4 linked regions of the Homo sapiens genome follow. The protein of the gene in region 4 purifies or fractionates together with the protein of the main gene of each other region. This does not show direct contact. Each region holds a gene or a part of one and is shown on either strand. Other genes may lie near its edges.

The links. The genes of interacting proteins can lie anywhere in the genome.
Region 1: the proteins of DHRS4 (region 4) and NDUFAF5 purify together in Homo sapiens (affinity purification with mass spectrometry; one large-scale study listed by BioGRID and IntAct). This does not show direct contact.
Region 2: the proteins of DHRS4 (region 4) and HADHA purify together in Homo sapiens (co-immunoprecipitation; one large-scale study listed by IntAct). This does not show direct contact.
Region 3: the proteins of DHRS4 (region 4) and CLPB purify together in Homo sapiens (affinity purification with mass spectrometry; one large-scale study listed by BioGRID and IntAct). This does not show direct contact.

What each region holds. Positions count from the first base shown.
Region 1 is NC_000020.11:13,798,528-13,802,027, forward strand, and holds part of NDUFAF5 (arginine-hydroxylase NDUFAF5, mitochondrial), read left to right. Parts: intron 1-2,958; coding exon 2,959-3,156; intron 3,157-3,290; coding exon of another isoform or gene 3,291-3,317; exon of another isoform or gene 3,318-3,346; intron 3,347-3,500. UniProt on the Homo sapiens protein: Arginine hydroxylase that mediates hydroxylation of 'Arg-111' of NDUFS7 and is involved in the assembly of mitochondrial NADH:ubiquinone oxidoreductase complex (complex I, MT-ND1) at early stages. May also have methyltransferase activity.
Region 2 is NC_000002.12:26,234,633-26,238,132, reverse strand, and holds part of HADHA (trifunctional enzyme subunit alpha, mitochondrial precursor), read left to right. Parts: intron 1-1,144; coding exon 1,145-1,278; intron 1,279-3,500. UniProt on the Homo sapiens protein: Mitochondrial trifunctional enzyme catalyzes the last three of the four reactions of the mitochondrial beta-oxidation pathway.
Region 3 is NC_000011.10:72,302,032-72,305,531, reverse strand, and holds part of CLPB (mitochondrial disaggregase), read left to right. Parts: intron 1-2,570; exon of another isoform or gene 2,571-3,183; coding exon 3,184-3,228; exon of another isoform or gene 3,229-3,500. UniProt on the Homo sapiens protein: Functions as a regulatory ATPase and participates in secretion/protein trafficking process. Has ATP-dependent protein disaggregase activity and is required to maintain the solubility of key mitochondrial proteins.
Region 4 is NC_000014.9:23,956,770-23,960,269, forward strand, and holds part of DHRS4 (dehydrogenase/reductase SDR family member 4), read left to right. Parts: intron 1-3,132; coding exon 3,133-3,234; intron 3,235-3,500. UniProt on the Homo sapiens protein: NADPH-dependent oxidoreductase which catalyzes the reduction of a variety of compounds bearing carbonyl groups including ketosteroids, alpha-dicarbonyl compounds, aldehydes, aromatic ketones and quinones.

The DNA.
Region 1 (3,500 bases), on a different chromosome or scaffold from region 4:
TCTTGTGTTATTTTCTTTATTGTTAGAAATCTACAGATGTTTCTATTTTCACATACTATTTACTTGTAGGTCTGACAGTTGGGAAAGAAATCGGTGAAATCATCTGGTGCCATTTGGCATATTAGTAGTACATTGGGCAACTCTCCTTTCCCTGAGAATTTAAGAAATCTAATTGTAGAGATAAGTTTTAAATATTTATGAAAAGCTTAGGAACTGTGCAAAATAATATTGAAATCATAAGACATTCTCTATGTAGATTTCTTCTTACCCTTAGTTGCCCATAAACTTTTTGCAAGTAGGAACCTACTTATTTATATTTGTATTTTCTCCATGCCTTATACTCAGAGAGTGCTAGGTAAGTTTTTATCGATTGACACGTATCAATAGACAGGTGAGAGGCAGGTAAAAAGTATGTGTTCAAAGGAGAGAACAAGATCCCTGTGGCTTGACATGGCCTAGAAAAGCTTCAAGAGGAAAGTACTTGAGCAGGGCCTTAGAGGGTAGGTAAAGTTTGGATTGGGAAGGCATTCTAAGAAGGCAGAATCACAGGATAGGTGGAGAGGCACAAGAGCTTCATCAGCATTAAGGAACAAAAAGGAAACCTGTTTGGAGGACTAGTATAGTGCTGGGAAGTGAGGTGTGATGTATTGGGACAGTATTTAGGAGGATTTGAGTGTCAGGTTGAGGAATTTGGAGTTTATGCAATTCAGAGCCACTGGAGCATTTTGAAGAGGAAAATGACATCATTATAAAGCTGGTGGGCAAAATAATAATGGCCATATCTGAACACGTATGATTTTCCAGTTTCCCGTTACTGTGCTCTGTTTTATATTTGTGTTAAATAGCTCTGCGAGATGTATTTATTTTGCTGATTAGAAACTGATGCCTCGGCTGGGCGTGGTGGCTCATGCCTGTAATCCCAGTACTTTGGGAGGCTGAGGTGGTTGCATCACCTGAGGTTAGGAGTTCGAGACCAGCCTGGCCAACATGGTGAAACCCCGCCTCTACTAAAAATACAAAAATTAGCCAGGTGTGGTGGCAGGTGCTTGTAATCCCAGCTACTTGGGATGCTGAGGCAGGAGATTCTCTTGAACACGGGAGGCAGAGGTTGCAGTGAGCTGAGATCACGCCATTGCACTCCAGCCTAGACGACAGAGTGAGACTCTGTCTCAAAAAAAAAAAAAAGAAAGAAACTGATGCCTGGAGCAGTTCGTTAAATTGAAGGGAGACTGTTTCAGTGGTCCAAGAATGAGATAAACTAAACCTAGGTGGTAATGGTAGGAGTTAAAAGGAAGAGTATTTAGGACTCTACAAGGAAAGAATCAACAGTTTGGTGACTGATTAGATCTGAAGATCAAAGGGAGGAGGCAAAACTCACTTTGAAGTTTTTGAGTCTGGATTAGTAAAAGTAGGGGAAAGAATGTTAATGATCAGATAAAGGGAATAGAAAATGGCAATAGAAATATGGCAGTTGGAAAGGGGAATTGATTTGATAAATAGATGTTTTCCTTGTAGGGGTTGGAGGGAGCAGGGACGGTGAGTATGCTGAGAGACAAATGTCCAGGGAATAGGCAGTTGAAGATGACTTTGGACTTCTGAGAAGATGGCCAAGCTGAAGTTAGGGATTGGAAAGTGGTCATTGTGAAATCATGGAAGTTGATAAGCTGTCTGAGGGAGAGCGGGGAGCTGCAGAATTCTGAGAACTAAGTCTTAGGTATTTGGTTTAGTAGAGTTTGATGACAGGAGGAGGAAGCAACACTAAAGGTGAAGAAGGGAAGGAACCAAAGCTTTTACAAATTATTTACTTAATACTGCTTTTAATTGCTTCATGACATATTAAATATAAATTTAAGACAGTACTTTTATTAGAAGAGCCTACTGTGATTTGGATTCTGGTTTACTTCAGAATCTACCTTTTCCTGTAATGGTCCTCATTGCTGAGAATAGTCAATCAAACTAGTTACAGCTTGTAGTCTGAGAGTGAGCAAAATCTGTGATTCTGGAATTCTCTCTGGCCATTATTTTCCTTAAGTTACTAATTAGAAATTGGTTTTGTTTTAAAGCTGGAAAATAAATTGATTACTTCTCTTTAACGAAAGGTAATATGTTACTAGGTTAATGCTGTGAATCATAATGATTTCTCTGTAGCTTTTTCTGCATAATAAGGCACCCCAACTTGATGGCTTAAAACAACAACTATGTAGCCCATGATTTTGTGGGTTGGCAGTTGGGGCTGGATTTGGTTAGGAAATCTGGGTCTGGCTTGGCTCATCTGTGTGTCTGTGATCAGCTGCCAGATCGTCTGGGAGCTAGCTGGTTTGGAGGGCCTCGGTGCACACAGCTGGCTGATCTCTGCCCTACATCTCTCCTCCTCCTCTAGGCTAGCTCAGGCTTGTTCACACATCGTGGCTGGGCTGGGCTCCAAGAGAGCAGGTGGAAGCATGCAACACATTTGAGACCTAGACGTGGAACTGGCACACTGTCACTTCCACTGCATTCTTTTGGCCAAAGCGAGTCACAAGGCCAGCCAAGATTCAAGGGGAGGGGAAATAGACTCCCTATCTTGATGAAAGTTGTTAGAAAACGACGTTTCAGAGGCCATAGATGCAGGGAGGTTTGTGATTTTTGCAGCCTACCCCAATTAAATTTTTTTTTCTCTTTCAGCATTTTTCTGATTATAAAACTAAGTTGTATACCTATTAGAAAACTTGAAAACATACAACATATTTTTATAGGCATTAATATTAGTGAATGTATAGTTGTCTTTCCAAGTATATTATGCATCATGATTTTCTGACAGTTGGTTGCATTAGATGTTATTTGTTAAATTATGTGATTATTAATTTGGCAGAATAAAAGTGGTTGTCATAAAATGTTAATTTAGACACTATATATTTATTTTTTAACATTTATATATATAAAAATTTGAATCATTTTGTTTTCTTGTATTTATTACAGATTCATTATATTTTAAAACCAGATGGAGTGTTTATCGGTGCAATGTTTGGAGGCGACACACTCTATGAACTTCGGTGTTCCTTACAGTTAGCGGAAACGGAAAGGGAAGGAGGATTTTCTCCACACATTTCTCCTTTCACTGCTGTCAATGACCTGGGACATCTGCTTGGGAGAGCTGGCTTTAATACTCTGACTGTGGTAACTATCAAGTTCGATTAACCCATAACTTACACAGTTCAAAAAAGAACTTCTTATCATTTTAAAGATAGAAAACTGTATGTGTTCATGGTTTCATGGCACTCTTTCTCTCCCTTTTTTTTTCTCTTTTTAAGGGAAAAGCTCTGATTGACAATGTTTAGTTTGTATAACACATCTTAATTGACACAAGGTAGGAATGTATAATTTTTTACTGTTACCTTAAAAAGTAGCTCAAAAAATGTATCATAGTTAACAAGACAAATTTCTAAACATACAACTCCATTAGAATCTTCAAATCTAGTATTAGGTGTAAAAAGGGCCTTAGAGTATTCCAGATGATAGGA
Region 2 (3,500 bases), on a different chromosome or scaffold from region 4:
TGAAGGCTGAGGTGGAAAGATCACTTAAGCCTAGGAATTCAAGGTTACAGTGAGCTATGATTGCACCACTGCACTCCAGCCTGGGCCACAGAGCAAGACCTTGTCTCTCTAAAAAACAACAACAACAAACTTATAGCCAGAGGCTTAGATGTAATAAGACCTAGATGGAAGCAGTTGACAACTATCACAAATTAAGGTAAATAAGAGCCATTCCCCTTTACTAGAGTAAATTTTAGCACTCACTAACCAATGATTCAAGCTTAAGATATTTTTTCAGAATTTTCTTAGGTTGGACATTTTTCCTGAACACAAAAGTAATATATGTCAATGGTAGAAAATTTTTCAACTATAAAAAATTATAAAGAAGAAAATAATAAACATTCATAATTCAAACCTAAAGATAACCACATCTTTTTCTTGGTATCTTCCATGGGATAATCACATTTAATTCAGTTTCAATGAATAATATTTACAAAACTAAGATCATACTATATGGTTTTTTTTGAAGATAGGGTCTCATTCTGTTGCCTAGGCTGGAGTGCAGTGGCACAGTCACAGGTTAGTGCAGCTTCAGCCTCCCCAGGCTCAGGTGATCCTCCCACCTAAGCCTCCTGAGTAGCTGGGACTATAGGCGTGTGCTGTCAGGCCCGGCTAATTTTTGTATTTTCTGTAGAGGCAAGGTTCCATTATGTTGCCCAGGCTGGTCTCGAACTCCTGAACTCAAGTGATCCGCCCACCTTGGCCTCCCAAAGTGCAGGGATTACAGGGATGAGCCACCATGCCTGGCCTATATGTCTTATTTGTATTTCATTTTTTTCTTAACATTATGCAGATTTTTTCCATGCCAATAAATGTTTGTAGACCTATTTGTTTATAGCCTACATATGATTCAAACTCTGAGGATGACCCTGAGTTTCTCCTTTGAGAAGACCTATTTTTAAAGGAAGGGGTGCTTGTAGTGGGCCAAAGCTGCCTGAATAGAAAGCTACTGACTTGCTGGGAGAATGATATTTCTTACTCTCTTCTAACAGTATATTTCTGCCGGATAAGTATATTTCTTATAATCAAAATAGCATTTGATGGTGGTACGTACATCCAGTGCTTCAAATTTAAACCCTTACCTGTATATATTTCCCTTTGGCAGGTAAATACACTGAGTAAAGAGCTACATTCAGAGTTCTCAGAAGTTATGAATGAAATCTGGGCTAGTGATCAAATCAGAAGTGCCGTCCTTATCTCATCAAAGCCAGGCTGCTTTATTGCAGGTGCTGATATCAAGTAAGTTTTAGGAAACTTGAAGTCACCTTTTATCTTGGTTAATAGTGTGTTTCTTAGGCCTAATAATTTCTCCTTTTAAAAGAAAGTAGAAGTGCTGGGCACAGTGACACAGGCCTGTAAAATTGAAAATGTACGTATCAGGCTGGGTGTGGTGGTTCTTGCCTGTAATCCCAGCACTTTGGGAGGCCGAGGCAGGTGGATCACATGAGGCCAAGAGCTCAAGACCAGCCTGGCCAACATGGTGAAACCCTGTCTCCACTAAAAATACAAAAATTAGGCATGGTGGCACACGCTTGTAATCTCAGCTACTCAGGAGGCTGTGGCACGAAAATCCCTTGAACCTGGGAGGCAGAGGTTGCAGTGAGCCGAGATCACACCACTGCACTCCAGCCTGGGTGACAGAGTGAGACTGTCTTAAAAAAAAAAAGTATATACACACACACACACACACACACACACACACACACACACACAGAGTATATATATATATATATACACACACACACACACACACATCATGTGATCTAGAGAAATCTCACCCCTTGTTTATAAGAACCAGTGTACAAGGATGTTTGGTCCTGTGTAGTGTGAAATAATGAAGAATTTAAAACCAAATGTCAGTCAGTAGGAAAATGGGTAAGTAAAATGTGGACTATTCACACAATAGAATACTACAAAACAGGTAAAAGGAATTAACTAGATCCACAATATGATGTTAGAACTCAAAAACATAAGGTTAAGTTAAAAGAAAAGCAAATTGCAGAATGTTTCATACAGTATATAGTTTCTATAAATGTTTTAAAACCAAACATGGAATAATTCTTGATACTATTTATGGACACAATCGTAGTTGGTCTGGAAGGAGACACTACAAACATGAAGATGGCTGCTTTGGGGAAATGAAGTGGGTGGTAGGACTTGATTGTTAAAGGCAGCTTTACAGATGCAGCTAGTATTTTCTTTTCCTCTGCTAAATGGTGGAATGCATGCCTACATTAACTTATTTACAATTGTTTACACATACATAAGGAGGGGAAATGATATTTTAGTGTCAGTTTAATAGGTTAAAATGTTAAGTTGTCAATTCCATTAAAATATGGGTATTTGTTATGTTCTTTGTATTTTAGACAATGATAGCCAGCATTGTAGGTTTAGTAATTTGTACTGAAAGTGTAATTATTTATGTGTAGTAATCAGTCTCTTGTTAGGCACAAATAATTCAGCTAGAAGAAAAACCACTTGATAAGATAATTTTGGGTCTTCTAAAAAATTAACATTAAACAGAACATTTATAAAGTCTAACAAGACACTGATGTACCTGGCAGTAGCTACCTATATCCAGAGGAAAATACATGTAGCTTCTATGAGGCCAGCTGAGCAACTCTCAGTGTATAAAATTACAGAATATACTAGTTATCCTTGGTCAAAAGTACAAAATCCATATCCTAAGTGTGTTCACAAAATAGCAAATGAAACAAACTGAAATTAAAGGACATTGAGTGGAACATCATTGCACCTGATCATTTTTATTTACTTATTTATTTTTGAGACGGAGTCTCCCTCTGCTGTCCAGGCTGGAGTACAGTGGTGCGATCTCGGCCCACTGCAACCTCCACCTCCCAGGTTCCAGTGATTCTCTCGCCTCAGCCTCCCGAGTAGCCAGGACTACAGGAATGCAGCACCACGCCCAGCTAATTTTTGTATTTTTAGTAGAGACGCGGTTTCACCATGTTGACCAGCCTGGTCTCGAACTCCTGACCTCAGGTGATCCACCTGCCTTGGCCTCTCAAAGTGCTGGGATTACAGGCATGAGCCACCATGCCTGGCCTACCTGGTCATTTTTATTCATTAGTGGGATCTGTTAAAATGTTTTAGATTTCTCTAAACAACCTGGAAGCTTTTCTTTTGCGTCATTTTTATTGCTGTTAACTACCTGATAGTGAAATGTTTAATCTGATAGTGAAGTAATTTACCAAAGATGATTTTCCCTTGTACCAAGCTTTGTAATTTAATGATTTATTACAGAAGTAAAAATAAATTATGCAACACATTTATGTTTTCTGGATCCAGAATTTTTTTTTTTTTTTTTGAGACAGAGTCTCACTCTGTCGCCCAGGCTGGAGTGCAGTGGCGCGATCTCGGCTCACTGCAAGCTCCACCTCCCGGTTTCACACTGTTCTCCTGCCTCAGCCTCCCAAGTAGCTGGGACTACAGGCGCCCGC
Region 3 (3,500 bases), on a different chromosome or scaffold from region 4:
CTCTCTTGCCTCAAGGTGAAAGCCCTCCAACCCATATCTTAGGTTATGGTGAGCATCAAGTGACGATGCTGTGTGCTCATCACTTATGTCATCACATCATGGTGAGCACACAGCAAGTGCCTATTCCTTGACTTGTATTTATTCGTCACTTCCTACTTACCATAGCAGTGCCCCATCTACTCTCCCATTTGATCCTATGGGGAAGATAGCATGGATGCTAAATTAGACCCACTTTTCAGATGAGAAAACTGAGGCCCTACAGCATTCTTAGGCTTATCTAAGGTCACCTATTAGGGGAAGAAATAAAACCAGAATCAATCCAGTCTCTCAACTCCTCACTGTGATACCGTTGTTCTCAGCTGCTCTAGGAAGCTGGATTGGAAACTTGCCAGTGTGTCCCCATTTCACATTGGGAGATGAGAGGCATGAGAAGCTCCATAAAAACAACCATGTATTTTATTTTTAAATCATAGGTGGTGCTTCTATGAAACTCCTGCCTGTGCTAGCCCTGTGGGTCAACTCATTATAGAATCTGTGTTTTGCGTAGACACTTTATAGCCACATGACAGGCATGTTTGAGACCTGCCTTCAAAATCCAAGAGAGCCCTGGACTTTAAGCTACGTAGCCAGTGTACCTGGGACCCAAAGAGTGATGTATGGAAAGTGTCATTCTCAGAGCCCAGTGTAAAATAGACTTTTACCAAACAGAAGCTCCCTTTAATTTGCCTCCCAAGACAGCTGACGAAATGAAATGAGCACTGGCCTGGAGTCTGATGATGTGAATTCTAGTTCTGGCTCTCTGATCCCTAGTTTCTTCATTTGTAAAGAGACACTGACACCTCCAGATCTTGCTGCTTCAGAAGCATTCTTTGTACATTTATATGATTTCTTTATCAGATCTGTGAACTTATTTTTTTCTCTCATTAGCCTGTATACTATTTCTTCCAAATTGAGTGGCTCTGTTAACTTTCCTTACTAGAGCTAATAAGCCTTGGGAAGGAACCTTAATGGTGTTCTGTGATATCATCATAAGGTAGGGTGGTGGAGCCCAAAAGACTTAGTTATAGTAGCAATATGATAAGGGATAAAGAACAACTATCTGAGTCCAGCTGCTTGGGTTCAAATCCCAACTGTACTCTACTAGGTGGAGTTGGCCAGGACCTCTGTTTACATCAGCTTTCTCATCTGTAAAGTAGGCTCCATAATGGTGCCAGTCTCACTGGATTGTTCGGAAGGTTAAATGAGATAGTGATGTAAAATGTTAAACGCCGTTCTTGGCATGTGGTAAGCAATCAGTACATGTTGGATGTTACTCTTATTGTTCTTGCCTCACTAAGATCATGTGAAATCAAAATGATGATTCCGGCCAAGAAAGTCAAGCCCAAAAACTTGTTCAAAATTACATAGCAAATCATTAGAAGAACTAGGGTGAGAACCCAGGTCACTTGACATAAGTAAGCACGAGAGTCTATAGTCCATCTGTCGTCCGACATTCATTGGCATCTGGACACAAAGCTCAGCACCCTTCAAGGTGAAGACTGTCAAGAGCCCAGCTGATTGGCAGAGAGGAAGCTATGAGGCAGTGTAGCATGATGGCTAAGAGCACAGACTTGGAGCTGAATTGCCAAGCGCAGGTGACCTTGAGCAAGTTACTTTAATCTGTGACTTAGTTTTCTCATCTGTAAAGTGGAGATGATAGTAGTGCTTACCTCAGAGACTTGTACATGTTCTAAGCCCTTTATAGCTTGCCTAAAACATTGCCAGGCACATAGTAAATACCCAGTAAATCCTGAAACCTGCAGATCTCTTGACTGAGCAGCCTAGGGACCCTCTGGAAATGCTTTCTGGCTTATGCCCCATGTGCTGATAGCAGTGCTTTCCCCCATGTGGCCTTAATAACTTCTCTAAGCCCTGTCCCACCTCTTGGATTAGATCCTCAGACCCCTGGTGAGGCAGGGAGAGGAGCCAAGAGCCTTCTGTAACACAGGACAAAACTGCAGCTCAAAAAGGGGAGGCAGCATGTCCAAGGCTCCACAGGCAGGCAGAACTAGGACTGGAACCCGAGCCCCCTGGCTCCCAGCCCAGGGTTCTTCTTGCCACCCTGTGTCTCAGCTGTAGAATGACAGGACAGAGAAAGAACTAAAAGTACATCATGGCGTGAATTTCTGACCAGTGGCCAAGCTAGAATATAGCCCTGGATTTCAGACATAGCTACCTCCCGCTGAGAATCTTGGCACCCCCATCATCACCGGCTCTCAGGAGAAGCAGGATTCAGTGAATGCTGTCTCTTAGATGGAGGCATGTGCCAGTAGGAGAGGAGCCCGGGGGACTGTGGGGAACTGTGGTCCTGGCTGTGGCTAGACAGGGCACCTGTGGATGCCTTTACAGCTCCCTAATCAGGTAATGCTTCTTGAAAACCAGTGGGCACTCTGCCTGTGTTAACTCTTCAGATCACATAATGCAAGCTGTTCTCTTCCCCAAGGGCTAACCATGGCCCTCACCCATGGGGCCACTTCCTCGGAAATCACCCCTACACCCTGTGGTGGAGAGAAAAGGGCTGTAAAGCTATGTTATGGATATCTTTTTTAATGAAATGAAGAAATGTAAATACATTTTAAAATATATTCATTTTGAAGAAAAGTAAATCAAAGGGACACGGGCATCACACAGACTTGCAGAGTTGAGAGGCATTCTGGAGCCATCTGAGTGTTTCTCTCCTCCCTCGCACCACAGTCCACACTGATCGTGACTGACTTTGTCCATGTCTGCACCATTCGATGGGGTGCTTCTTAAGGACAGAGACCAAGACTTGTTCCCTGTTGTAACTCCGGTGTCCAGCACACACAGGATGCCCTCAGGAAACGTGGAATGGATGGATGGGTGGGTGGATGATGTGGTGATCAGAACAGGAGAGGCCTCCCTGAAAGAAGACACCCCAAGTCAGATTTAGAAGGTCAGGTACATGATTTGGGTCTTTTAAGGAAGAGAATGAGGGACTCGTAGGAAATGAGTGCACAGAAAAGGAGACAGGAAGTCAGAAAAAAACATCTTGAGCGTGAGATAGAAGATCTTATGTTGGTGTGGTGTGAAAGCCTTGGGGATAGTTGAGGTGCTCTCCTCCCTAACCCTTCTCTTCACTTTCCTGCCTCCAAACGGAGTTGGTACTTGCTTGTTTCCACACAGGGCTTCATCAGGCTGGACATGTCCGAGTTCCAGGAGCGACACGAGGTGAGTGATGACAGTCCTTGATTGAAGCATGGTTTGGAGGGCTTGTCAGCATGACTGCCGGGGTCTTGTCATTTGGGCCTCAGATAATTCCAGCAGCCTTGGGATTTGTCGTTGGGAGCACAGGTGTGCAGCAGGGTCACTGATTTGTTTCACATAGGATTTGCTCTGAAGAATAAACATAGAGAAGATCTATCTGCCACACCAGGAGATGGACAGCCAATCATCTCTGTTGAGAGAGGCAACCTTAATAGCGTATAAAGTCATCTTCCCAT
Region 4 (3,500 bases):
ATTTTTGTATTTTTGGTAGAGACAGGGTTTCACCATGTTGGCCAGGCTGGTCTTGAACTCCTGACCTCAGGTGATCCACCCCCTCGGCCTCCCAATGTGCTGGGATTACAGGCGTGAGCCACTGTGCCCGGCCATAGCTTCTTAAAAGGATACGTTAAGGACCTTAAAAGGATATGGCCTCTTAAAAGGATATGTTTACACACCCTTGTAGCAAATAAGAAGCCATGTGAGGTTTTGAGCAAGAGAAAGATGGTTATTAGGAAAGCTAATCTGGCTCTGGTAGGAAGGATATACAGAGGAGACACCGAATCCAGGGCATCAGTGAGGAAGCTGTTGCTGTCCTCCAGGTTTAGAGCAGTGGCGGTGGGACTGGAATAGATGTGCCCAAGAGACATTCAGTGGAAACGAACCAAGATTTTCCAACCCCATGTCAAAAAGTGGGAAATAGAGAAGTCAAAAATGACTCTCAAGTAGTTTGTATGACCATTGTCAGAGAGGAGAATGATAGAATACTTGTCAGCAATTTGAAATGTCTTCTGCCAGTTGCCACATGTTACCCTGCAATGAGAAAAGCCACTTTCCTGAGAATGGATACTACCCAGTGGCCTCCTCATCTGGACACCACGAAGCTTCTCACTGGTGTTGTAAGTGGAAACCAGAGTAGCTGCCTATCTCCTTGATTATATTTTTTCTTAAAAATGTATAACTATCAGAACACAGAACAAACAGCTCCTAACCGCTTTGGTGTAGTGATCACACAATTTAGAATAAGACTTAGAAGACTTTCCTTTTTTTTTTTTTTCCAGAGACAGGGCCTCCTTCTGTTGCCCAGGCTGCAGTGCAGTGACATGATCATAGCTCACTGTAACCTCGAAGTCCTGAACTCAAGCAATCCTCCCACCTCAGCCTCCCAAGTGGCTAAAACTATAGGCATGCACCACCACACCAGTTCATTTTTTAAATTTTTTGTAGAGTTGGGGCTGTATTTCCCAGGCTGTTTTGAACTCCTGGCCTCAAGTGGTCCTCCCCACTGGGCCTACCAAAGTGCTAGGATTATAGGTGTGAGCCACCACACCCAGCCTCATTCATCTTTTATGGTTTGCTGTCTCTGTTCAATCAAAACCCAGCCTCCTCCCATCTCTGTGCTGACAGACCTGGAAGGAGAGGAGTATGGGGTATACAGCAGAGTAGAAAATGTCTCCAGGTGATTCTAGAGCAATCCATTGTCTCCTCCCAGCCCAAACACATGTGTACTGAGCACGGCGCACATCACTTATTAACTTACTCTGCACCTCCCTAGTAACAAGTCCATTGGTGAGACTTACACAGAGCCAAGGCAGGTGACTTGGCTTTGTGCCAGGATACCAAAATTTAAAGGGTGCAAGAAAGTATTAATACTGGTTTTAAAAGATTATGTGACTGTAAATTTTGTTAGATTTACACATTGACAGCCCAGCATTCCTTCAACTGTCTAGAAACAACTGAGCTTAGCACCTAGTTAACAAGAATAATTAGTTAAAACGGGAAGCTAGCAGATGGTGTACATTGTTAGTAACACCCCTCTGTGTGCCAAATCCGGAGCACAAAGTTGACCGAGGGCCCGTGTACTGCAACTTGCCCAAGGCATCAAAATTGCCAGTTCCGGGCAAACGGAAAGTCTGGTTTCAGGGTGGCTTTGTACTGAAAACCCTTGTTGGCAGATTCTGCTTGGCCATTCATTACTCTAGCACAGGCCTCACTATCTACTTATAACTTATTAAGGAGGTGAGATGTTGCCTTTCTTCGCCTTCTCAATTTAAATTTCAGTTTCTGCCTTGAATCTTTCATGCCTCCAGGTCAAAAGAGAGAGACAGAGACAGGGAAAATGACATCATAACCAAATATGGAATTGCTTTAAATTCAGGCTGGTATCTTCTCCCATCACGGCTCTCCTGGGCAACCAGTTTCCTGATGACCCCAACTCACTTTCAGAGGGCTCTTATGAATTAGCTCTGTGCTACAAAGTGGGAGACTGACCTCAGTTCTTCCACCACTAACTAGCTTTGTGCCCTGAAAACATCACTTCACCCCTCCCAAACACAGAATAAGCAGGCCTCCTGTTCTTACCTAGCCCCAGTGTGCCACTACTGAACTATAAGATCTTGAGAAAATTCTCTGAACCTATTTCATCATCTCCACCTTAAGGACACTGGAATAGATGATCTCAAAGGCCCCTCCAGGGTAACTTTCTACAGCTCTATTTAAGCCAGTTTTTCCATTCAGGTAAGTGTGGACAGATTGACTTTGAGATAATGGTAACTTATTCAAGGAGAACTGGACAGTAAGCACTTGGAGAAATGTGGGTGGAACTCAGTGTGAAAGGAAGAGGAGGGGTCTGGAAATAGATTTTGGGGTGAGACTTGAAATCATGAGAATGAAGGAGCTTCCCAAAGGGGAAGTGTAAAGAAAAGAGCGTCAGAGACAGCCTTGGAAGAATAGGAGGTGGGAAGAAAACACTGCAAAAGAAATAGGGCCAACTTCCTGGTGGGTCGCGCCTGTAACACTTTAGGATACTGAGGCAGGTGGATGGCTTGAGCCCAGGAGTTCCAGACCAGCCTGGGCAACATGGCAAGACCCTGTCTCTATAAAAAATACAAAAATTGCCCGGGTGTGGTGGCACGCACTTGTAGTCCCAACTACTTGGGGGGCTGAGCCAAGAGGATGGCTTGAACCCAGTAGGTCAAGGCTGCAGTGAGCTGAGAACATGCCACTGTGCTCCAGTCTGGATGACAGAGCAAGACTCCGTCTAAAAAAGAAAGAAGCCAACCTTAAATGGTTAGCGGCAGATCTTAGGGTAGTTTTCAAAAAAGATGTTTTAAGAAATAGAAGTTATTTTGACGATAGTTCCTAAGTAGGAAGATTTTGTTGTCATTGTTGTTGTTGTTTTTAATATAAAGATAAGGTCTCGCTGCATGGCCCAGGCTTCTCTCAAACTCCTCAGCTCAAGTGAGCCTCCCACCTTGGCCTCCCAAAGTGCCATGATTACAGGCATGAGCCACAGCTCCTTGCCCAGAAGGAAGTTTTTATCAACATGGGTAAATGCACCTCCCTTACTTACTGCAGCCCTGGTCCAGAACTTACCCCTCTCTCTAGGCTGTGAAGCTTCATGGAGGTATCGATATCCTAGTCTCCAATGCTGCTGTCAACCCTTTCTTTGGAAGCATAATGGATGTCACTGAGGAGGTGTGGGACAAGGTGAGAGGGGATTAAAGCAGGGGGGCCGGGGGGGGCGCCTTGGAACACATTCAGCACAAACTCCATCTGCTTTTAGAATGCATTTCTCAAGGGCAGTGTAAATGTGAGGACTCTTTGCCACGTGCCACACACCTGGAGCACACCTTGCAAAGGGCGGGTGGGGGTGGCTCTATCCCTGCCCTTCTCATTCGTTTCTGCTACTCCTAGTTCTCTCTGCTTCTATCTGCTCTTCACTAGCCACAGTCTGCTCCTCTCCCCAGGCTTTT